5 separate regions of the Homo sapiens genome follow, and regions 1, 2, 3 and 5 are each linked to region 4. The links come from fine-mapping of genetic effects on gene expression. A gene starts in region 4. Each other region holds a variant in brackets. All regions are shown on one strand. Distances are from middle to middle.

The links. PIP is the estimated chance that this variant, and not a neighbour inherited with it, causes the effect.
Region 1: its variant is the best candidate, but not a certain one, in a credible set for the expression of WDR37 in tibial artery (GTEx, PIP 0.54).
Region 2: its variant is the best candidate, but not a certain one, in a credible set for the expression of WDR37 in esophagus muscle (GTEx, PIP 0.67).
Region 3: its variant is the best candidate, but not a certain one, in a credible set for the expression of WDR37 in unexposed skin (GTEx, PIP 0.53).
Region 5: its variant is the best candidate, but not a certain one, in a credible set for the expression of WDR37 in lymphoblastoid cells (GTEx, PIP 0.75).

The regions. Positions count from the first base shown.
Region 1 is chr10:1,122,804-1,127,803 of GRCh38, forward strand. WDR37 (WD repeat domain 37) reads left to right here. Exons shown (of 14, transcript NM_014023.4): 12 at 1,415-1,549; 13 at 2,107-2,221. Among named protein-coding and RNA genes, the nearest start is that of LINC00200, 34 kb to the right of the region's middle. The variant G/A (reference allele first, on the strand shown) is at 2,568.
Region 2 is chr10:1,029,587-1,034,586 of GRCh38, forward strand. The region is part of intron 1 of IDI2-AS1 (IDI2 antisense RNA 1); the gene reads left to right. Among named protein-coding and RNA genes, the nearest start is that of IDI2, 6.2 kb to the left of the region's middle. The variant G/A (reference allele first, on the strand shown) is at 1,954.
Region 3 is chr10:1,093,694-1,098,693 of GRCh38, forward strand. It overlaps WDR37 (WD repeat domain 37), which reads left to right. Exons shown (of 14, transcript NM_014023.4): 9 at 2,477-2,553. Among named protein-coding and RNA genes, the nearest start is that of WDR37, 40 kb to the left of the region's middle. RefSeq lists an enhancer at 1,945-3,144. The variant T/C (reference allele first, on the strand shown) is at 2,938.
Region 4 is chr10:1,053,607-1,058,606 of GRCh38, forward strand. WDR37 (WD repeat domain 37) reads left to right here and starts at 2,779. Exons shown (of 14, transcript NM_014023.4): 1 at 2,779-3,362. It also overlaps a transcript of IDI1 not described here. RefSeq lists silencers at 2,257-2,316, 2,747-3,176 and enhancers at 2,427-2,476, 3,277-3,336, 3,437-3,496.
Region 5 is chr10:1,099,928-1,104,927 of GRCh38, forward strand. WDR37 (WD repeat domain 37) reads left to right here. Exons shown (of 14, transcript NM_014023.4): 10 at 3,675-3,909. Among named protein-coding and RNA genes, the nearest start is that of WDR37, 46 kb to the left of the region's middle. RefSeq lists an enhancer at 2,272-2,804. The variant TA/T (reference allele first, on the strand shown) is at 2,469.

The DNA of each region.
Region 1 (5,000 bases), 69 kb after region 4:
CCTCAGCTGGTGAGGACATGATTTCCTCTGCAGATTTTGCCTGGGTTTCTTCAGTGATTCTCAGTGCAATTCAAGTGATAACATCCTTTGTTTACATGTTTAATCCGATTTTACCACGGGTAAGACTATTTAATATACTTAGCACCATGTCAAACACTTTTTTTTACATTTCAGAAGAAAAGTTTATGAAAGAGTTTAACATAAACTGATGAAACCTTTCTTCCCCCTCTCTTCTTGTTTTTATGGTACTTTTCATCTTTAGGGCGTGGGTCTCCCATCTTAGCCATTTCAGGGCCTCTTCGGTTCCTCGAGCCTCTCCCTGAGGGCCACATATTTCAACACATTTGAATTAAAAAGAAAACTATTAATTATTATTTTGGATTTATAGAAGCAGGTTCCAAGAGTGGTTGTGATGTTGAATTTTTCTCCTCAAACTTTTTAAGATAAAGATTGTGGTTAAATATACATAATATGAAACTTACTATTTTAACTGTTTTTATGTGTGTACTTCAGTGGCATTAAATCAATTCACATTGTTGTGCAACCACCAGCACTATTTCCTATGCTTTTTCATTATCTCAAATGGAAACTCTGCACTTGTGAAACTATTCATGCCCATCCCCCAGACCCCGAGAACCTCTGTTCTACTTCCTGTTTCTCTGAATTTGCCTAGTCCAGGGATCTTAGATGAGGGGGATTCTTGAAAGTTCATTCATGTCATAGCACGTGTTAGAGTTTCTTTTTTTACGACTGAATAATATTCCATTGTGTGTACACGCCGCATTAAATCCATCTGCTGATGGACATGTGGGTTGTTTGCACCTCTTTGGCTGTTGTCAGTAATGCTACTGTGAATTCTGGTGTGTGGGGCTTCTTGGCTGTTTGTATATCTTCTTTGGGAAAATGTTGATCCAAGTCCTTTGTCCGTGTTTGAATTGTTGTCAGAGTGTTTTTCTCTTAACTCCTGTGTTATGATTACATTGATTGAGAGTTGTTGTTGGAATGGATTTCTTTTAAATTCTCTGCTATAGACCAAGATATGTTATGATTACATTGATTGACAGTTGTTGTTGGAATGGATTTTTTAAATTCTCTGCCATAGACCCAGATGTGTAGACATTTGGGCATGTTCTGTCCAACCCTACTTTCTGTAACCTCTCTTCGTTCCGTTGCCTGTAGATGTGGAATAGAGTAGAATGGACTGTGTGTTTCTGATCCACTGGGAAGAAATCAGTTGTCCTTTTCTTGCACTGGTGGAGAGGCTTTGGGAGGCGGGAGCAGTTTGCAGAGGAGAGAGCTGTGAGTTTGCGCTTCTCCGACCTCCTTCCCACCCACTTGGTCAGGGTTGTGTGTGGGGTGTGGTGTCACGTCCTGCACCTGCTGTTGCATCTGACTCTGTGCCCTTTGTTCATAGCACTGTGACTTCTGCCGTGTTCACCGTGGGAGACAACGTGGTTTCAGGCAGCGATGACCGCACGGTGAAAGTCTGGGACTTGAAAAATATGAGATCCCCCATTGCAACTATTCGCACGGACTCTGCCATTAACAGGTAAAGTCAAACTGTTGGTTAAGTAAGTGGCTTAGTTTGATGTGAAAGGATTGATTGTGATTTCATGTTTTATTCATGGAGGTTTAATTGATAGAACCCCGGGAACAATGGTTTAGGCTCCTTTGTCCTCTAATGCAGTTTCAGTATTCCATGAAAACTTAAACTAACTTAGCCTAAAACCAGGTTGGATCAGTGAGATTTGTGAGAATGAGAATGACCCGTTTGTGGCAGACATGCAGGGCTTCTCTTGACTTCTTGTGAGGATTGGTCTTGTGTCTGGGTGGGTCTGGTTCTACCATTGAGCAGTGTGTGTGTGTGTGTGTGTGTGTGTGTGTGTGTGTATTGTGTGTATGTGCATGGGGTCTGTGTGATCTTGTAGCTACGTGTGAGTAACTTGGTCTCTTTTGAATACCGTAAGCAGGTGGTACACGCAGTGTGTTCATGTAGTCGGCCTTGAAATGTGAATAATATGGAACCTCCTGCTTCATTATCTGTCAACTCAAAAACTTACAGTGTCACTGTTTCATGCACAACCCACTTTTACCTCTTCTTTGCAGGATCAATGTATGTGTCGGCCAAAAAATCATAGCCCTCCCCCATGACAACCGACAAGTGAGACTGTTTGATATGTCAGGAGTGCGCCTGGCGCGGCTTCCCCGGAGCAGCCGACAGGTAACAGCACGGTCGGTGAACATATGCAGGGCACAGTGGAGGAGGACGGGTAGAGATATTTTACATTCTCATTTTCTTACTAAGTCTTTGCATGCTAAGTTTTCCTTGGAAATGCTTGAGCTGTATTTAGAGTTCATAAAATTTAAAATTGAAGAAGTAGAGTTGTACACTCAAGTTATTCCACACCTACTTCAGTGTTTTTTTTTTTTGAGACAGAGTTTTGCTCTTGTTGCCCAGGCTGGAGTGCAGTGGCATGATCTCACGGCAACCTCTGTCTCCCAGGTTCAAGCAATTCTTCTGCCTCAGCCTCAGCCTCAATCTCCCGAGTAGCTGAGATTACAGGCAT[G/A]CGCCACCACGCCTGGCTAATTTTGTTAGTCAGGCTGGTTAGTTAGTCAGGCTGGTCTTGAACTCCTGACCTCAGGTGATCTGCCCTCCTCCGCCTCCCAAAGTGCTAGGATTACAGGCGTGAGCCACCGTGCCCAGCCCAGTGTTCTTAATACCATGATCGGCTTTTCAGTTTACAAATAAAGAAAACATGCAGCTCCTCTGTTTCACAGGCATGCGGAACGAGCTCTTTGGTGCACGTGTTAGTGGTGGTGGCTCTGTGGGGAAGCCGTCTTAGATGTCTGCAGTTGTGTCTGTGCAGATTGGAAGTGTTGAGTGGGCATTGTGGCCAGGCAGAAGCTGGGTTGGTTGTAGGCTGGGGGTCTTTAAGGTGGGACCTCTTCCACCTCCAGCCAGAAGAACACGTTTCTATGGCAGGCTGTTGCGACAGGAAGAAATATATTTAAATGTTAGTTTCTTGTTAGTGAAGGGTTGCTCCTTGCTAACTTCAGAAGACGGCGGAGGGAGTTTCTCGCTATGTGCTGTTCAGCCCACCCGTCCTGGTTGCCTGGAAGGCGCAAAGAGAATCGAGACTCCATGGCACCCGCACAGATGCAGAGGCCCAGGGGGCCTGGGGGCCCGTGTTCAGATTCCCTGGCGGCTCTGCTGTGCTCTGCAGCCGGGCCTCACTATAATGTGGGTGGCGTTTGCTGTTGGCTCTCCCCTGGGAGGTCACAGGGTCAGCTGCGATGCACAGAAACTCCCCGGGGTCAGTGGCTGGTCGCAGTGGCTGACGCCTGTAATCGTAGCACTTTGGGAGGCTGAGGCGGGCAGATCACGAGGTCAGGAGATCGAGACCATCCTGACTAACACGGTGAAACCCTGTCTCTAATAAAAATACAAAAAAATCAGCCAGGCGTGGTGGCGGGCGTCTGTAGTCCCAGCTACTCGGGAGGCTGAGGCAGGAGAATGGCGTGAACCCAGGAGGCGGAGCTTGCAGTGAGCTGAGATCGCGCCACTGCACTCCAGCCTGGGCGACAGAGCGAGACTGTGTCTCAGAAAAAAAAAAAAGAAACTCCCCGTGGTCGAGGCAGCGTCTGCCCAGCCTTGTGCGTAATGGAGGCCCCCCCAGAGGATCCCTCTTTCCTGTCTTCTTTTGATTTTGTTGGAGTACTGTCTGGATACCTGTGTGAGTAAATGGATTTGTTCCCCGAGGCCTCCTGTGGCTGCACAGGGCCACACGCCTGCCGGCAGCTTGGGTGGCCCCCTCAGTGCCTCTGTGGCTCCTTCTGTGGACACCAGCTCATGGCTCGTGGGCCGCAGCTGCTCTGCACGGGGTGTGAGCCTCAGAACCTGCAGGCAGGCCGGGTGGTCAGGGAGGCACGTGCGAAAGTGGGGGTTCTCTCAGCGCAGCAACACCTTTTCTTCCGGTAGCACAGACTTTCTGGAAATGAGCTTCCCTGAGACCGGGTGTCTCTTCAGTCCCCTTCCTGGCATGAGAGTGCACTGTTTGAAGTTAATTATTGAGTTTTTACTCCTCGATACACATCCAAATAGTGGAGTAGAAAAATTTCATGAAATTAGAGTGACTAAAATATGCTTCACAACCCTTAACACAGCCATAAATTGCTTGTCCTGGGGAAGCTTTTCATGTTTTGTTAACAGCTGAGCATCACTCATGTGTCCTCACAGCTGCATCTTAGACACAGTAGAATGTTCTCTTTTCAATGTGCCCATGCGGATTTTAAAATTTCTGTGCAGCATGTAAAGTTTGCATTTTGAAACACAAATTCATGAAAACTATTTGTTTATGACTGTGAACTATGACTTTATTACTTTGAGAGTATTTTCCCTCAGAAAAACGGAATTCTGAATGGTTCTTCTTGGCCTTAATTCTGTGTAGACAGTTTTATTTTCAGTTATCTGTGAACATTCAACTTTGTTGATGTTGTAGGATTCTGTTGTGCCTGGGTTTATTCCCTCCTAAAGTGGTATGTGAAATAGATTTATTTTTAAGATTAATGAATGTGATTTAACTTTATTTAGAACTTGTAACACCTCTTCAGATAAATAAATGTGGTTTTCAGTGTCACAGAACCCTGCTGGAAATCACTGACTTATATTGTCCTTACTTCTTCAGCTGACTGACTTGAAAAAGAGAAAACAAAACACTTATTTGAGCCTTTAAGTAGTGGAGTGAAAGGGACTGATTGAAAATATTTCCCTGTAGTGCTGGAGTAGGTGTCACTTCCCAGCATGAGTTTTGGGAAAGCGAGCTTGGTGGAGAGTCAGGAGGTCCGGGGTCAGGGTTCCTGTGAAGAGCAGGCTCATTGGGCGTGAGGGTCCCTGCGCAAGGGTCTCTGTGACGTGGAGGCTCACGGAGTGTGAGGGTCCCTGTGATGTGGAGGCCCGTGGGGCCCCGTGCTGAGCGTCCTGGAGCACATCACGTGCACTG
Region 2 (5,000 bases), 24 kb before region 4:
CTTTGCCCAGGCTGGTCTCAAACTCCTGAGCTCAGGCAATCCGCCTGCCTTGGCCTCCCAAAATGTTAGGATTACAGGCGTGAGCCACTGCGCCTGGACCTCCTCCAATATTTGGCCAAGCCACGCAATCTTTAAGCTCCCATGTCTGTCCATGATTGTAGGTTTATAATTTGGAACTTCGGTTATTTAATTAATTAAAAATATTCAGATATATCCTGCAAATAAATACAAAGTTTTTGTACTCAGCATCTTTAGTGCACTTTCCCACAAGGAGTTGTATGTAAATGAAAAAAATAGATAAATGCAAGCATGTAAATCAACTCCTATTATTAACCATTTACTTAGCTCAAGTTTATTTACACCTGAATGAAAAGTTCCATTTGCATCAAAAATACATTCGTATACTCTTAAGGCAGTGTCCGGCGCAGCGGCTCACGCCTGTAATCCTAGCACTTTGGGAGGCTGAGGCGGGTGGATTACTTGGGCCCAGGCATCCAGCCTGGACAACAATGGCAAGAGCCATCTCTACAAAAAATACAAAAACTTAGCCAGGCATGGTGGTGTGCACCTGTAGTCCCAGCTACTCTGGAGGCTGAGATGGGAGAATCGCCTGAGCCTCAGAGGTCAAGGCTGCAGTGAGCTGGGATTGAGCCACTGTACTCCAGCCTGGATTACATATATTTGTATATTCCTAAGGCACATAATGGACCTAGGTCACCAAAACTAAAAGATATTCTAGACCAAAATTTTGAATGTAATTTAATAACCTTGTACAAACCCTCTACAGCTGCACATTACCAAAGCTAGTATCACTGTACCTAGTGGCTTACTGCCTCATTCAATTGAAAAGATCAAACTAATTCAATCCTGCTCTCCAAAGAACACTTTTTCTGAATGGGCTCTCAGACTTTTCCTGAATGGGCTCTCAGATTCTGCTTTCCTAAGAAAGTGTGTTGAGGTAGTTCTTTTTCTGAATGGGCTCTCAGATTCTGCTCTCCTAAGAAAGAGTGTTGAGGTAGTTCTTTTTCTGAATGGGCTCTCAGATTCTGCTTTCCTAAGAAAGTGTGTTGAGCTGTAGTTCTACAGCATTGTTCAATGCAAAGATAGGGTTGGCTGTAGGTTTTCAGAAGGTGACCTTTATCAGGTTGAAGAAGTTCCCTTCTCGTCTTACTTTCTTGAGATTTTATCATGAATTGATGTTGAGTTTTGTCAAATGTTTTTTCTGCATTTCTACTGAAATGAGTCTTGTGTGGTCTTTTCCCCTTTATTCTAGCAATATGGTGTATCATATTAATTGATTTTCAGATGTTAAACTAGCCTTGCTTTCTTGAAATAAATCCCACTTGGGCATGGAGAATATTCTTTTTATATGTTGCTGGTTTCTGTTAATATTTTAAGATTTTTGTATCTGGATTCGTGATTGATAATAGTTATTCTTGTAATATCTATTATAAATAGTTACTGTGTGGCTTGGCCAAATACTGGAGGAGGTGAATTGTATGGATTCAGTAGCAAATTGCAGATTCATTTGAGAGGGCTGCTGTCATCAGCCTTAAGATATCAATCACACTGGGCGCAGTGGCTCACACCTGTAATCCCAGCACTTTGGGTGGCCGAGGTGGGTGGATCACAAGGTCAGGAGTTCAAGACCAGCCTGGCCAACATGGTGAAACCACATCTCTACTAAAAATACAAAAATTAGCCAGGCATGGTGGCAGGCACCTGTAATCCCAGCTACTCGGGAGGCTGAGGCAGAGAATTGCTTGAACTGAGGAGGTGGAGGTTGCAGTGAGCTGAGATCGTGCCATTACACTCCAGCCTGGGCAACAGAGCAAGACAATGACTCAAAAAAAAAAAATATCAATCACATATGTGTCATTTTACTTATTACTGAACATTTCTCAATAGAAATCTTTTTGCTATATTTGAGATATCCCGTTTTCTTCTGCATAT[G/A]CTTTTGGGAGGTAGGATAACTAAAAATATTATATATAAAATATAAAATAACAATATATAAAATAACTAATATGATAACTAATATAACTATATATAGCTATATATACCTACATATAACTGCAATATAACCATAATATATAAAATAATTAATATAACATATAGATTAGTTATAAAATAATATATATAAAACTAATAAAATAACACCAATATATAAAAAATATAAAATAACTAAAATACATTGGTATAGTTTCTTGTAATAACCAAAAGAAAGTGTTCCTTTTTCCTCTATTTCTTGGAAGTGCTTATGAAGGACTGGTAATATTTCTTATTTTTTATTATTTTTGAGACAGAGTTTCGCTCTTGTTGTCCAGGCTGGAGTGCAATGGCGCGATCTCGGCTCACTGCAACCTCCGCCTCCCAGTTTCAAGTGATTCTCCTGCCTCAGCCTCCTGGGTAGCTGGAATTACAGGCGTGTGCCACCACACCCGGCTAATTTTGTATTTTTAGTAGAGACGGGGTTTCACCGTGTTGGTCAGGCTGGTCTTGAACTCCTGACCTCAGGTGATCCGCCCGCTTCAGCCTCCTGAAGTGTTGGGATTACAGGCGTGAGCCACCATGCTCGGCCAATACTTCTTCTTTAAATGTTTGGTAGAACTCACTAGTGAGGCCACTGGGCCTTGTCTTTTCTTCATGGGAAGATTTTAATTACTATGCCTTAGCTGGGTAATACAAAGATGTACCTGCATTATTTCGGATTTTCATCATTTGTGCATTCTCTCTGTTCTTCTTGATCATTCTAGTTAATGGCTTTTTCCAACTTTGTTGCTCCTTTTTTTTTTTTTTTTTTTTTTTGAGACAGTCTCACTCTGTTGCCCAGGGTGAAGTGCAGTGGTGCGATCTTGGCTCACCGCAACCTCTGCCTCCCGGGTTCAAGCAATTCTTGTCCCTCAGCCCCCTCCCCCTGCCTGTCCCTCCTTCCTCCTGCTGAGTAGCTGCGATTACAGGCACACACCACCATGCCCGGCTAATTTTTGTAGAGATGGGGTTTCACCATGTCACCCAGGCTGCTCTCAAACTCCTAGCCTCAAGTGATCTGCCAATCTTGGCCTCCCAAAGTGCTGGGATCACTAGAAGCTTTTCAATTTTTTTATTCCAAAGCAATCTGATGCAGTTTTTGCTATATTTGAGATATCTCATTTTCTTCTGCATATGCTATTGGGAGATAGGAAAGATTTTGGAAAATGTGTAAGAAAAAGGAAGATACTAAAAACATACTAAGATTGTATGTAGGGAAAGGTTACAACTCTAACTTTGATAATGTGCATTAAATCGACAAATCCTTGAAAAGCACAGCTCGATAAATCCAACAAAAGGAGAAAAAGAACATGTGAAGAGTTGAATATATGTGAAAGAAATGTAAGTTCATTTTTCTTTTTTTTTTTGAGATGGAGTCTCGCTCTGTCGCCCAGGCTGGAGTGCAGTGGGGCGATCTCGGCTCACTGCAAGCTCCGCCTCCCGGGTTCACGCCATTCTCCTGCCTCAGCCTCCCGAGTAGCTGGGACTACAGGCGCCTGACACTCCGCCTGGCTAAATTTTTGTATTTTTTAGTAGAGACGGGGTTTCACCGTGTTAGCCAGGATGGTCTCGATCTCCTGACCTTGTGATCTGCCCGCCTCGGCCTCCCAAAGTGCTGGGATTACAGGCGTGAGCCGCCGCACCCGGTCGTAAGTTCATTATTAAAATGGGCCCCATATCCACGTGAATAGGGGTCAGTCTCAGACTTAGCTTTAATTTTCAGCCATGAGAAGACTACTGCTCTTCCTCCAACACTCACTTCTCTATTTTCTCTATCGTTTGATCCTGTCTCCTGTACAACTGGGTGGTATTTAACCATGTTTAGGCTCAGGTATAACCCAAGCTCTGAAACTGTAATAGAAAATTAAGTAAATGAAAGGCAAAAAATGAAAGACTTAATAAGGTTTAAGCTGTTATTCATCTAGGAGGCTGAATAACAATACATATACATGTTTTTGTTGTTTATGTGTATATATTTTTTATGAATAGAGTTGTTCCTATTATGTTGTATCTTGTAATAATTACTAATGACAAGGTTCATAAATAGCTAGATGTTAACATAACTGGCCAAACTCCAGTGACAAGGGCCCTGTTACAATCAGTAGGACCAACCTGCTAAGACCTGAGCTCAGAGCTCAGGGATGGCCAAGGTCAAGGCCCAGTGGTTGTGACGAGATGCCAGGAAACCTTACCCACTGCATGCCTGTGTTGTGCCATGGTGCTGTAAGTAGTCTCTTTGGGTACACTGCCAGTAGGCTTTTGGCATACATGTATGGGCTAGTATTTTCAGGCCAAAAAACTATCCCTGTCTCATTGTTTACTATTTTTGTGCAGCAATTTGGTTTTACTGTTGGTTCTTACTCTGGTCTTGCCCCAAGTTCAATACTTTGGTTCTTCTCTTCTCCCTAAACTTTCCCTGTCCTGATTCCCTGAGAACAATTCCCTTTTCTCTGAATTGGGATCCTATTTCTACCCCTTGCATACATACCCCTCCTAATTCTTCTGGGTAAATTTCTATGCCCATTAACTCTAGACATACATTTGTAAATTACTGAGACCCTAAATTGAGAATTATGTTTGCCATTACTTTTAAAAGTGTAATCTGAATCCCAGCACTTTGGGAGGCCGAGGCGGGCGGATCACGAGGTCAGGAGATCCAGACCATCCAGACTAACACGGTGAAACCCCGTCTCTACTAAAAATACAAAAAAATTAGCCGGGCGTGGTGGCGGGCGCCTGTAGTCCCAGCTACTCAGAGGCTGAGGCAGGAGAATGGCGTGAACCCGGGAGGCGGAGCTTGCAGTGAGCCGAGATCGCACCACTGGACTCCAGCCTGGGCGAAGGAGCGAGACTCCGTCTCAAAAAAAAAAAAAAAAGTGTAATCTGTTTTTTTGCCTCCTGAAATCACTTATGTATAAACACATTAAAGTGGGTCACCGTGTCACGTCTTGGGCTTCCTGGGACAAGAATCA
Region 3 (5,000 bases), 40 kb after region 4:
AGTTGGATTTATTGTGAGATGAAGATGGCTTCACGGTCTTCTCGAAGCCTTTCCGTACAGCATCAGTATGTTTGCTGCTCCCCCCGCAGTTCCTGTAGACGGAGCTCCTTGAGGCCCTGTGGTTACCATTCTGTTCCCTTAGATTGTAGGCATCTGATATGGAGGAAAAGAGAAAAGTAGCACAGAGACACAGCAAGTTGCCAATGTCAGCATTTTTACTTCTTTCTGGGTAATTTATCTAACCCGTGGTAGCTTGGATTTGCTATAATTTCAGAGTAGTTTTAAAAACGTGCCTTCCTTGGTCGCTTTTTCGAGGGTAGCCTTACAGTACTGAGGACTTTTCCTGTGAGATTGTCAGACCCCCACAGATCCCCATGATAGCCCAGGGACATTGGTGATGATCTCGAAGGATGTGTGTAGGCTTTCAGTAGACCAGAGGTCCTTATGATTTTTCTGTAAAGGAGTAAGCAGTGAATATTTTCATCTTTGCGGGACATTCAGGCTCTGTCGCCAGTACTGAGTTCTGCTCTTGCAGCCTAAAAGCAGCGGACAGTGCACTGATGAGTGGACATGGCTGTGTCCACTTATTCACAAAAGTGGGCGGCTGTCTGGGTTTCGCCTATGGGCCAAATTGTGCTGACGCAGGAATAGAACACTGAGGTTGAGATGACTGGCCCCTTCATGCAGGTGGAGTTGTTTAAGAAGGAGCCCCAGCAACAGGTACTTCCAGTGTGTGGGATGCAGCGAGTCATGCGGTTTGGTTGGAGTTTCTATGTGAGAGAGAAATGTGGTGGGAGGGTTAGCCTGAGAGTCATTTTGAGCAGGCCCAGACCACATAGCTGACTTTCACCTTCATACGTGGATGAAGACTAAAGCAGACAAGGAGTTTACACCTTACGAAGTTGGCGGTTTGTGGGATGATTGAAAAGGGAGCAAGGAGACTGGTGGCAATTAGACGTGTCCAGATTCAAACCAAAGGGCTGGAAAAGAGGGTGGAACCAGACACATCCAGGAACTGATGAAGACTTGGAAACATGAGGTAATGGACATAGAGAGGGGAGAGTTAGACTAGGAAACATGAGGTAATGGGGATAGAGAGGAGAGTTAGACTTGGAAACGTGAGGTAATGGACATAGAGAGGGGAGAGTTAGATTAGGAAATGTGAGATAATGGGGATAGAGAGGAGAGTTACACTGGGAAACATGAGGTAATGAACATGGAGAGAGGAGAGTTAGACTTGGAAACAGGAGGTAATGGGCATAGAGAAGGGAGAGTTAGACTGAGAAACGTGAGGTGATGGGGATAGCGAGGAGGGTTAGACTGGGAAACATGAGGTAATGGGTATAGAGAGGAGAGTTAGACTGGGAAACGTGAGGTAATGGGCATGGAGAGAGGAGGGTTAGACTTGGAAACGTGAGGTAATGGGCATGGAGAGAGGAGGGTTAGACTGGGAAAGATGAGGTAATGAACATGGAGAGGGGAGAGTTAGACTGGGAAATGTGAGGTGACGAGCATGGAGAGAGGAGAGTTAGACTTGGAAACGTGAGGTAATGGGCATGGAGAGGGGAGAGTTAGACTTGGAAACTGGAGGTAATGGGCATAGAGAGGAGAGAGTTAGACTGGGAATGTGAGGTAATGGGGATAGAGAGGAGAGTTAGACTGGGAAACGTGAGGTAACAGGCATGGAGAGAGGAGAGTTAGAGGGGAAACGTGAGGTAACGGGCATGGAGAGAGGAGAGTTAGACTGGGATTGGGCATGATGTTGATTTGAGGAGGAGTTGCAAGTCCGGGCAGTACATTCATTTGCATCAAATGTGCTGCATCAGCTCAGAGCAGCTCCTTTAGAGAAGCTGGGTGGCAGTGAAGAGAAGGTGGAAGCCAGCCTGCCCGTGTGTGGGTGAGAGGTGGCCATGCTGGTGTCCGAGGCCTGTTCTGTGCCCCGCAGTGCTGTCCTTTTGTCTTTCCAATCCTCAGTCAAAGCGTTTCCTCGCAAACTGGCTGCTGAAAACAGAGTGGGACGGGAGCCGCACACATGAGCAGTGCTGATAGGTGCCTGGCCCATTGAAAGGCCGCGTGTGTGTTGAATGGATGGAGATGAGTGTCGCTTTCCCGAACGTCTCAGAGTTGATTGCAGCTGTAAGTTCTGATATGATAGGGTTTCTTAGGTTAGATAGATGGAGAGGAAAATCTACTATTTGTACATTTTCTCTGAACTTCCAGGACTTTCTATGCTAAAATGAAAGGTGAAATAGTTTTATAAGTAATCATTATTTCCTCAATTTTGGACATGTACTCTATTTTCAATAGCATTATGCAGTCTCAGAAAAGAGTTATTTAAGTAAAAAGTACATTCCTCTCACTAAGTGGTCACTAAGCTGGAAAGGTCTGACTGCTGCTGCTTAGCCATAGTGGCGGTGAAGAGCGCATTTTACCATGGTCTGTGCCTTGGGTAATTTTCCCCGATTTCTCTCTTCAGCTTCTGGAGATCAGACTGCTCATATCTGGAGATACGCGGTGCAGCTGCCGACACCCCAGCCTGTTGCTGACACTAGTGTAAGCACCTTTCCTTACCTGTGAATGTGTAGGATGCTGATGTCTGCGAATCTGAGAATCCATTTATGATATCTGTCATGGACGGAATGTTTGTGTCCCCCCAAGTTCAGTGTTGAAGGCCTCACCCCCGGTATGGTTGAATTTGGAGATTGGGCCTCTAAGGTAGTAGTTAAGGTTCAGTGAGGTTGCGTGAGGTCCTCATAAGAGGAGACAGTGGAGAGCTCACCTGTGTTCTCAATCTCTCTGTCACTCTCCGTGTCACGTAAGAGCAGAGCCAGAGGGCGGCCGTCTTTAAGGATGAGCCCGCACCAGAACCTGAATTGGCTTGATCTTGGACTTCCAGCCTCCAGCACTGTGAGAAAATAAATGTCTGTTTTTTATGCG[T/C]CGCCCGGTCTGCGGCCTTTTGTTGCGGCAGCCAGAGCCAACTGAGACAGATTTCAGTACCGCGCGCAGAGCGGGGGCTGCTGGAGAAATGCCGACGGTGTGGACCTGGCTTCGGGACCGGGAATGGGTACATGCTGCAGACGTTTTCAGGGACCTGCTGGAGAAAGCCTCCATAGCGGCGAAGAGCTTGTTGGTAGAAATACGGACATCAATGGGGACTCGGGTGAAGGCTCAGAGAGGAAAGGGGAGAGCTGGAGAGAAAGCTTCTAGCATCTCAGAGAATGCAGGTATCATAGACAGAATGTTGTGGAAAAGTGGATGTTGAAGGCCTTTCTGCTGAGGCTTAGAGGAGGCGAGGGACAGGTCACGGGGAACCGGAAGAAAGTGATCCTCATTACAAAATGGCTGAGGACTTGGCTGAGCTGAGATCCTGTGAATGAAATGTTAAAGGTGCAGCCTGGCTGCTCTCCTCGCTTACAATAAAGTGTGAAAGGACGGAGATACTCCGAAAGAGTTGTTAAGGGAAAGGGGACGAGAACTTGTAAGATTTGGGAAATTCCCAGCCTGTGTCTGTGACAAAAAAAAGAGAAAGCTGGTTCCGAAGAGCACATGCAGGGTTTGTCTGAACAGCCAGTTGACAGGGAGGCGAGTGTGGGTGGGAGCCACAGCTTTAAGCACCCACCGCAGCAGGATCCAGGACTGGAGATGGGATTATACCCAGAGACCCCGCCAGCTTGAACCAGAGGGGACATGGTGGGGACAGAATGAAGGAAGGCATCAGACTGCTGGGATTCCACAGCACAGAAACCAGAGCTGCCTGGGCGAGAACCTTTACCACCCTTCAAGATGAGGGAAGAATGCCCCGAAGGTGATTCTGAGGTTGGCAGGGCTGCAGCTCTCACTGCAGTCCCAGGACAAGAGCCTGTTTCTTCCTTGGTTTCGAAGTGTGGGAGCCTCCTTGGTTTCAGGGCCAGGTTGCCCATGGTCCAGTGCTGTGGGGGTGGGGTTGCCAGGCTGAGCCAAGGGGGTGACACCTCTGCCCCAGCATGCCTGGAGGGTGGCGCATCCAGACCAAGAGGGACTCTCTGGAGCCTGAAGAGCTCGTGGAGTTTGCCTTGTGGGGTTTTGGACTTGCTTGGGCCCCACCACCCTTTCCCTGTTGCCTCTTTCTCTCTTTTGGAAAGGGAGCGTCTGTCCAGTGCCTGCCCTACTGTTGTATTTTGGGAACATGTAACTTGTTTGGGTTCCGTGGTTTACGGCTGGAGGGGAGCTCAGCTTCAGGGTGGGCGAATCGCACTCTGAGTCCCACCCAGTCCTGATTCAGGTGATGTTTTGTTGAGACTTGGGACTTCACACCTTAGCGCTGATGCTGGAATAAGACTTCTGGGGCTGTTGGGATGGGATGACTGTATTTGCCATGCAAGAAGGATATGAATTTGGGGGAGGCCAGGGACAGGATGTTCTCAACTGAATGTCTCCGTCCCCCAGAAATCTGTGTTGAAGCCCTAACCCCCAGTGTGGCTGTATTTGGAGATGGGGCCTCTGAGAAAGTGGTTAAAGCAAAATGAGGTAGTGGAGGGGATGCCCTGATCCCATAGGATGAGTGTGTCCTTGTCAGAAGAGACACCAGACAGCTCACCCTTATGGCTGCCCTTGTGTGTGCACGCTCTCTTTCTACCCCCTCCCCATCTGTCCGTTTTTTTTTTTTTTTTTTTGAGATGGAGTCTCGCTCTGTTGCCCAGGCTGGAGTGCAGTGGCGTGATCTTGGCTCACTGCAACCTCCACCTCCCGGGTTCAAGGGATTCTCCTGCCTCAGCCTCCCGAGTAGCTGGGACCACAGATGCGTGTCACCACACCCAACTAATTTTTGTATTTTTAGTAGAGATGGGGTTTCACCACGTTCGCCAGACGGTCTCAATCTCTTGACCTCGTGATCCGCCCTCCTCGGCCTCCCAAAGTGCTGGGATTACAGGCGTGAGCCACCGTGCCCAGCCTCTCTGTGCTAATATTAATAGAAGAGCCCCTGTGGGCACGCGGCAGGATGGCGGTGCCACACACCGGAA
Region 4 (5,000 bases):
GCTGTTTCAACATGCCTTCCTCACCATGCTTAATCATTAATCATTTCTAGTTTTGATTTAAAGTAAGAGATGTGCAACTCATTCTTTTATGAAACAGTAGCCATTTTAGGGCTATTAATTGCCTGATTTTTTTTTTTTTTTGAGTCAGGGTCTTGCTTTGCTGCCCATGCTGAAGTGCAGTGGCGTGATCACAGCTCACTGCAGCCTCGAACTCCTAGGCTCAAGCAATCCTCCTGCTTCAGTCTCCCAAGTAGCTGGGACTACAGGCATGAGCCACCACCATGCCTGGCCCCTAATTTCAGTATTGCTGTGTCTCAAGGATAGGGAGGTCTGAGCAGAAGGAGAGAGATAGGGAGGCAGCTGGTCAGTGCAGTGGTCAGAACACATAAAACATTTATCGACTCAGTTTGCTGTCTTATATAGGGGTGGTTCATGGTGCCCCCCAAGCAATTATGACAGTAATATCAAAGATCACTAATCACAGATCACTATAACTGATTTAATAACGGAAACATTCCAAGAATTACCAAAATGTGAGAGAGACATGAAGTGAGCACATACTGTTAGAAAGATGGTGCTGACAGACTTGCTCCATGCAGGGCTGCCACAAACCTCCACTTTGTAAGAAACATATGATACCTGTGAAGTGCAATAAAGTGATACACATGAAAACAGTTGTGCCTGTTACATGACATATATACACACATATATATAACTTGAGAATTTAGGAAGCGACATGTCAAACAGCTTATAACACTATAGTGTACTATCCAAGTGTTTGAGACACAGTTAAAATAATCAGTAATGAGGACAATGACAGAATACCTAGTAAATCTTAATTCCCTATCAAACCATGCGCAAAAATGAGTCTTAGTAAATTCAGCATTGTTGCCCTATGTCAGGGACAAAGTACATGTATTTTGCATAGATGGACATGTGACAAAATAGAAATTGGTTTTCTGAGACAGGATTCTCCACAGCTTCTGCAGGAGGGAGAATGTAACTGGATACCAGGATTGCAATCATAACCTTTTATAATTTCGGCTAGTTTTGTGTCTTTTAAAAAAATTACATTGGATAGTTATTTCAGGATACAGTGTGTTATGGGTTAAATTGTGTCCCCCTTTCAAATTCATGTGTTAAAGACCTCACTTCCAGTATTTTATAATGTGACCTTATTTGGAAACAGGGTTGTTGTGGATATGATTAGTTAACATGAGGTCATATTAAAGTAGCGTCTACTGTACTCCAATATGACTGATGTCCTCATAAAAAGAACGCTAAGTGTGCAGACAGACACGGACATGGAAAACGTCATGTGAAGACTGGCGGGGGCATGCTGCCACAAGCCAAGGAATGCCTAGACGCTGAGATGCATTAACAGGCTCCCATCACAGCTCTCAGAAGGAATCAACCCTGCCAATACCTTGATTTGGGACTTCCAGTCAGACCTCTGACAATAAATTTGTTTAAGCTGCCTAGTTTGCAGTATTTTGTTCCTGCAGCCCTAGCACATCAACAGTGAAAAGAATATGGATTCTGATGCCAGCCTTTAGTCTTTGCCCTGCTGCACGATTATTTTTGACTTTTGACGAGTAATTTCCACATTCTCATGCTTAAAATTCAATTTAGAATAACTTTTACTTTATTGGATTCCTTTGGGGATTAAATTAGTTACAAAAGATGTAAAGCGACTGATCCTCAAAATGATTTCTTTCCCTTGTTTTGTGACATGTCATGCTCTCAGTTATTTTCAGTGACTTTTATGGAATCCTAAATATATCAACTTAAAAAATTACATTAGCGATATTCTTGGTGTTACCTGACTGTGGTGCGGTCCAGAAAAATAAAACCACCTGTTAGAATGCGGGTTAATTAGATGGGACACTGCGATTTACAAAGCTTTCTATTTGCTGCCATGCCCAGTACAATGTCTTTGCATACTAGGTACTAAATAAAATTATGTTACTTAAATGTCACAACCTCTAAAAGTTTAAAAAATGACTTCTCTAAAAACTCAAATATTTTTTTCCTTGGCGTTCCTCTTACAGAATTGTTTTTAGTGATAAAGTTTTATTAATATACTTAATGCAGAAATAACTTCACTTCTTTTTTTTTTTTGGTAATCTGGATCCCCTAAATAGAATGCTAAATTTGTTTCTTGTGCAACAAACAAGTTACCACTTCTGACTCTTCATCTTGAGCTTCCTTATTTTTTTTTGGAGACGGAGGCTCGCTCTGTCCCAGGCTGGAGTGCAGAGGCGCGATCTCGGCTCACTGCAACCTCCGCCTCCCGGGTTCAAGCGATTCTCCTGCCTCAGCCTTCCGAGTAGCAGGGGTTACAGGCGCGCGCCGCCACGCCCGGCTAGTTTTTGTATTTTTAGTAAAGACAGGGTTTCACCATGTTGGCCAGGCTGGTCTCGACCTCCTAATCTCGTGATACGTCGGCCTCGGCCTCCCAAAGTGTTGGGATTACAGGCGTGAGCCACCGCGCCTGGCCTTGAGCTTCCTTTTTAAAGGAAGGAGCAGGAATGTTAACCTACACAGAAAAAAAAAATGCTTTCACGCTCTTGATTTACTCTAGGTGGGCTTCAAATGCGCGGTTAGCGCTTTCTGTAGAGCGTTGAGACGGCTGTTTACGTAAAGACCATCATGCGACGTTTCCAACCTAGATTCTAAGAAAAAAGCGGCCCAAGTCCCACCTTTCGCAGGGAACAGCTGATTCTGTTTTTCCTTCCCAGCCAATGGTGATCAAAAGCTTCAGGACGCTGGTGAGTCACTGCGGAGGAGCCGAACACTGACCGCGCCGTCCCCGCCAGGCTCCCGCGCGGCCGGCACCGCGGCCCTGAGCGCAGGCGGCCCCGGGTCTCAGGCCTCAGGCGGACCGCGCCCCGGGCTCGCAGCCCTCCCGCCCCGGCTGCCGGGCTACGGGGCAGATGGACTCGGAGCGCCCCGCCGGTGAGTAGCTACGACCCCCGAGGCCACCTCCCGCGAACCGCTCGGCGGCAGGAGTACGTGACCAAGGGTGGGGGCGTTGGCCCAGCAGCCGAAGGGGTCTTCAGCGCGCCCAGACCCCTCGGGGCTGCGGGGCGGAAGCCGGGGCGTGACTTCCGGCGCCGCCGGGTGTGGGGCGGAGGTGTGGGGCGGCTTCCGGAGAACCCAGCGGCGCGGGACTGGGGCGGGACTTCCGGCGACACCGGAAGTGCATTAGCGCCAGGTTGGGGTTGTGGGGTCGCGTCAGTGCGGAGACAGCGGTGTCCTGCGCGTCTTCGGGTCAGTACGGGGGGCCGCGTCGTAGGGACTCACTGGCGGTGCGCGACCTGGGCTGGCTCCGGGGGTGGCGGGCGCAGCTGCTGTGACAGGTGAGTGCCGCCATCTTCCTACCTGTCAGGCGCCGAGTCGTTCCCCGGATGCCCCGAAGAGGAGTCGGGACACTGCAGGGCTCAAGGGGGTGCAGGGGCAGTCGGGGCATAGTGGCGGATGGGGTGCAGGTGGGCTTGGAATGCAGAGGGTCCGTGGTGGTGCAGGAGGGGTCGGGTCCCTGGAGGACCCGTGGCGGTGCAGGAAGGGCCGTGGTGCAGAAGGGTTCAGGGTGCAAGAGAAGTCGGGGCGCAGGAGTAGTCCGTGGCGGTGCCAGAGGGACCAGGGTGCGGGAGGGATGGGGGCCCGGGGCGGTGCAGAAGATGTCGGAGTCCAGGAAGAGTCGGGGCGCTGGAGGGGTTGGGGGCAGAAGGGTTCGGCCCGGGGTCTCTCCCCGCCCCCTTTGCTTCGGCCTGGGCATCCCGGGGAAGTGCGTCTCCAGGGAAGCACTTGGGAGGCCCTTCAGAGAGGAGAATGGCCTTTCTTCTCTCCAAAGAGTGGGGATGGTCGGCTTCAAGAAGGGTGGTGAGTGTGGAGTGACGGATGCTGAAGTGATTAACACAGCGCCATGATATTGTTCCCCTTTTGAAGACTTCCTTTTCCTTCCCTTCCCCCTGAAAGCAGCCACCGCTGGAGGGAAACATTTTAAGACAGCTGTTCACCGGAATAACACAAGAGCAACAATAATAATGTACTCATTTACTAAACCAAGTTGAATAAATACATTTTTCCAGGTTGTGAGTGAAAATAGCTTAAGGTCTGCCAGGTTTTTAGAGATTTTGTCATTTAACTTAAACGCTAAAACATTCGTCCCTTGAAGCGGATACCATTATAGAAAAGTGTTAATTGCTTGGAAGTTTCATTTATTGAAGTTCAAGTGTTTTTCTCTTAAATTCAGTATGTTGGCCTGTGAGTTACGGTCATAAAAGTATTGCAGGAATTATTTACCTCTGAATGAGAAAGCTCAAGATAGTTATATCTCCAGGAACTTTCTTCGTCTTCTGAACTTCCCCCAACCCCAGCAGACACACACACTGTTCTGGTTACTTTCCTGATCAAATTCGAGTCTTTCAAAATAGCTTTTGATATGTCCCAGGAGTTAAACACGGTATGTAAATATGAACTCACCAATGTGGAACAAATGGAGTGATCTGTTATCCCCTGGGTTTAGACGCTGCCTTTCTATTAATACTGCTCACAGGAGACAGAGTAGGGACTCGTGTGCACTGGCCACGTCTCAACAGCAGTGTGACCTTGGGCAAGGCCTTCCTAAGTCCCGACTCCCTGTCCTCTAACATGGTGTTCATATCAGCCTCATTTTCTTACTGGGAAGGTTACGTTATGTAATATATGCCAGCCATTTTTGCAAAGTGCTGTATACAGGAGATCTTGAGTGAGTGTGTTTCCCTCCTCCTCTTTTTGGGTAGCTATGTTAGGCTGTTCACTTTGGGCATTTGCCCTGAACTAAAATCCCTAAGTCCCTTTCCCCAAGGTGAAACTAAGATAGAGTTTTCATATTTATCCTGTCTTATTCTTTTCAGGGAAAAGATTTTACATCTGTTGAATTTCATCCTTGGTTTAAAGTTGTTCTTTTAACTACTGAGATCTTTTGAAAATCTTGATGGCTATTTATCTGATTA
Region 5 (5,000 bases), 46 kb after region 4:
TGATGCTCAGGAAATTCAAAATGTGCACTGATGGTGGGCGTGGTGGAGAGGTGAGGAGGGTGAGCATTGATGCTCAGGAAATTCAAAGGAGTTAATGTATGGATTGTTTTCCAAATAAAATAAGAAAAACACTAATTTTGTGAGAGGGAAGATTCATGTCCAGTACTTACATTAAAAACACCTAATAGTTTACTTAGAATGTTCACTTAATTTTATTTTCTTCTTTACTACTTTGCTTGTGTTGGGTGAGTGCACTTCTCATATTGATAGCTGCCACCTCAAGATTTGGGGCTGGTGTTGGGGGTTCTGAGTTAAAGATGAACCTCTGTGATGTGCTGTGACTTGAGCTGTCCTGGGAGCACTGCACACACAGTTGTGTTGGGCCCTCCCTAATAAGGAGGAGGCAGTGCAGCCTGTGGACGGCCAGGTCCCTGCAGAAATGGCGTGGGAGGCTCCTTCCAGCACTACTGGATGAAATGAGGCTCCTTAGGTGGAAAGCAGTTTTGTTTTCTGAAGCTTTTGCCGGCCAGTGTTGACTCTGATTTGCTTAGCAGTTCTAATTTTCAATTTTAACACAAACTCTAATCTGTTAAAATCTGTGTTCATCTTGAATCATTATAGCTTTTGGGCAAACGTCTTGTGTTTTAAAATTTGCATCTGTGAGTTTTGCTTGACATCCACAGTGTTGATAAGGAAGCGTTTGGGTGGCGTAGTGGAAACAGACTTAGACCAACAGAATGACTGTCACATGTGAGTTAGGTTACACTGAGTTACTCGTTTAACTTCCTCAGCCTTCTTTTTCTTCTTTGAGGGGTTCACCCCGTGGCTGCTCCTGGCTCTTTGCTGTGCTCCCTCCAGAGCCGTTTTCCCAGCCACGTGCAGTGCTGTCACCCATCACCCCCTGCCTTCAAGGTGACGTACCGAGTACCCCCCTGCTGCAGCCTGTCTGGGGGCCTCTGCCAGCCTTGTGAGCCTCGGGCCCCCCGTCCCGACTGAGCTGCACGTGCCACCCTGAACTTGCTGTCTCTGGGTGTTCCTTTCCTTGTGCCACCCGTCTCAGGAAACGTCCCTGTCACCCAGTGCTTTAGACCAAACACCTTTCCACCGTCTGAACGCCTGTATTGTTCTCTTACTGCCTGTGGAAATCACCCTGTCAGCCACTCCTGCAGCAGAGGGCGCTTCAGTTCTTTCTTCCCACCCTGCTCCAGGCCGCCCTCCCTGCACTTCTCTCATCTCCTGTCCGTCTCCCCCGTTGTTTTCTGGGGCTGCCATAACAAAGTGCCACAGGCAGGGTGACTTCTGAACAACAGATCCGTGTTCTAAACAACAGATCCGTGTTCCCACAGTCCTGGAGGCTGGAAGCCCGAGATGAGGGTGTGAGCAGGGCTGGTTCCTCCTGAGGCGTCTTTCCATGGCTCATAGATGGCGTCTTCTCCTGGATCCTTCATCCCTCTGGGAGTGTCTGTGTCCTCATCTCTTCTTACAAGGATGTCAGTCCTATTGGAATAGGATCCACTCTCCTGGTCTCATTTTACCTTAATTATCTCTTTAAAGCCCCTTTCTCCAAACAGCCCCATTCTGAGGTCCTGGGGTGAGGACTTCGACACAGGAATTTGGGTCCACAGTTCTGCCCATAGCAGCCCCTTCCACTGTTCCCTCCGCAGTTTGTTCACACAGCACACACCGGGCATCACATCCTGCCGACAGCCGTCTGGTGATTTTGCATCACACGGAATAAAACCTGGTGTCCTTTCCAGTCTCCCGGGATTACAGGAGCTGTTCCCGACTTTGCCTCCCGTAGCTGTTCCGCACATGGCGGGAATGTTGTTCCTCAGCCCGGGCGAGCCTTACTTAACCTTTCCTTTCCTCACATCCGACTCACGTGCGACCTCATCAGAGAGTCCCTCCTCAGTAATTCTGTGTGAAATAGCGCCCCCATCCAGCTGCCCCTTGTCCTGTTTTATTTTACTTCATAGAAGTTACTACCACCTTACTCTGTGTCTCCATGTTGATTTGTGTTCCCGTGCTGCTCTGCATCCATGTGATATGTGTTCCCGTGCTGCCCTGGGTCCCTGTGACGTGCTTTCCCTTGCTGCTGTGCGTCCCTGTGACGTGCGTTCCCTTGCTGCTGTGCGTCCATGTGACATGTTTCCGTGCTGCCGTGCGTCCCTGTGACGTGTGTTCCCGTGCTGCTGTGCGTCCCTGTGACGTGGGAACCCTTGCTGTTGTGCGTCCCTGTGACGTGTTCTCGTGCGGCTGTGTGTCCATGTGACGTGTTGCCGTGCTGCTGTGCGTCCCTGCGACGTGCGATCCCGTGCCGCTGTGCGTCCCTGTGACGTGCGTTCCCGTGCCGCTGTGCGTCCCTGTGACGTGCGTTCCCGTGCTGCTGTGCGTCCCTGTGACGTGCATTCCCTAGTAATGTATATGTGCTCATGACGTGCCTGTGTTAGGCCATTCTTGCATTGCTA[TA/T]AAAAATACTTGAGACAGGGTAATTTATAAAGAAAAGAGGTTTAATTGGCTGATTCTGCAGGCTGTACAGGAAGCGTGGCACCAGCATCTGCTTGGCTTCTGGGGAGGCTTCAGGGAGCTTGGAGCTTTCACTCACAGCAGAAGGCGAAGCGGGAGAAGGCGTCATGTGATGGAAACAGGAGTAAGGCGGGGGCGGGGGGTGCCCCACATCCAAGCAGCCAGATCTCTTGAGAGCTCACCCACTATTGTGAGGTCAGCATCAGGCTATGAGGAATCCTCCCCCATGAGCCAGACACCCCCACCAGGCCCGGCCTCCAACACAGGGGATTCCAGTTCAGCATGAGATTTGGGCTGGGACAAATTTCCAAATTATCAGTTCCAGTACTAGTACTTGTGTATATATGACATACCTCTCCATACTAACGGGTGTGTGTGTGTGTGGTCTCTCTCTTTTGCTAGAACAGAAGTTCTCTGAGGGCAGGGGCTTTACCAGGGGTCCTCACTCCAGAGTTCCTACCTGCTAGATTGAGCGTAGTTTTGCATGTGTGCATGTCAGAAGCCGTCTGTCCTCTTCTGCATTGTGTAAGCAGCACCTGGGCTGGGGGTGGGGACTGGCACTCTGTCACCCCCTGATAAATATTTGTTGGATGAATATACAGATTTTCTTACAGAGCTGGCTGTAATGTGTTTGTTTTAGCCTTGGCCTTTGACAGGGGGCTTGATGTTACAAAGGAAAATAGACTCTTATGACTATAGCAATAGAATTCCAAGTATATTTTAAATAGGCTCTTGAGAATGAAAATGCCTTTTTGTAATGTGATAAATTACTGACTTTCATTTGTATTTGGTTAGTTTTATATTGCATTTCTACTAGTAACTGATGAAAGCTTAAATGTTGAAAATCATTTTATTTGCCATTCTGTTGATGCGTGGAAATAAATGGTAGTTCGGTTGACAATGTTGTGGATTCCACTTTTTTTTCTGTACGAGATGGTCGTAGAGTTGATGGGTGTTCACGGGCAGCAGTTATGGGTCAGAGGAGGACATACTCATCACTGTGGCCAGCACCAGGCTCCTAGTGGTGACCATCATGATGGATATGTCCTCAAGAGATTAATGAGAACCATCTATTTTGTAGCTATGTCAGAAGAAACTCAAGATTTCCAGGAAATGTCTTTCTTTTCTGGCCTTCCCTTTGGCAGCAGATATCTGGGGAAGATGAAGTAGAGTGCTCTGACAAGGACGAGCCCGACCTCGATGGGGATGTGTCCAGCGACTGCCCCACCATCCGCGTCCCACTGACATCCCTCAAGAGCCACCAGGGCGTGGTCATCGCCTCCGACTGGCTGGTTGGGGGGAAGCAGGCTGTGACTGCCTCCTGGGACCGGACGGCAAACCTGTACGACGTGGAGACGTCCGAGCTCGTTCACTCTCTGACAGGTGCCTGGGTTCTCTGAGTCCGCCGCCTCCTGGCTGTGCATGTTAGTTTATGTCCATGGGTTATGTCTGACCTTGCCACTTACTTCTTGACCAGAATGAGTCTCTGTGTTCTTGGCTCTTCTGTGGTAATTTTTGGAGATTCTTTCTATTAATAATAGAACTATTGGTAGCTAAATTTATTTTGTCTTCAGGGGTTTTAAATTGTAGCATGTAGTATCTAGATATTGGACATATGGTAGTTGTATTAGTTTTCCATTGCTCTGTAACAAATTTCCACAATCTTAGTGTCTTAAAACGACAGGAATTGACGGCCTCATGGTTTCCCAGGTCAGTAATTCTGGGCCCGTGGTAGCTGCTCTTCTCCCTGGGCCCTCAAAGACCTAAGTGAGGGTGCTGCCTGGTCAGGACCTCCCCAAGGCTGCGGTCCTCTTCCAAGCCTGCTGGTCATTGGAGGAGCTCCTTCTTGCGTCTGGAGTTTGAGGCCCTGTCTTCTTGCCAGCTGCCAGCCGGGGCTCCTCTGGGCGTGCAGAGGCTGTGTCTGGCCCTGGGGCCCCTGCACAGGGCTTGCCTTTCCCACACAGCAGCCGCTTTCCTCTGCAGCTGGAGCTCCCCTGCTGCTCTGAACTCTCCAACTTCTGGGACCCTTTTTAAGGGCTAGGCCAGACCACCCAGGACAATATTCCCTTTGATGAAGTCAAAGTCAACTCATTTAGGGACCTTAATTACATCTGCAAAATCCTTTTTGCCTTATAATGTATCATAATTACCAGAAAGATAATCTCATCCTATTTACAGGCTCTGCCCTAACTGAAGGGAAGGGTGTTAGGCATGTACGGGGTGGGGGTGGCTTGGGGCCATCTTGGGATGCTGCCTGCTGAAGTTGCTTCTGCGAATCTATCTCTAAGTGCATTTCCTGCATGAGCGTTAAAGATTGTATTTGACTGAGGACCCATAGCGTTGTATCATTAGAAGGTATTCTAAGCAAAGAATCAAGATTTAAGTGGTTCTCACATTCAACCTGTTAATTTGCCTGACCTTCTAACTGGTAGGGTCAGAAAATGGGTTATGCACCTGTTTGGTTTTCTGTTCCT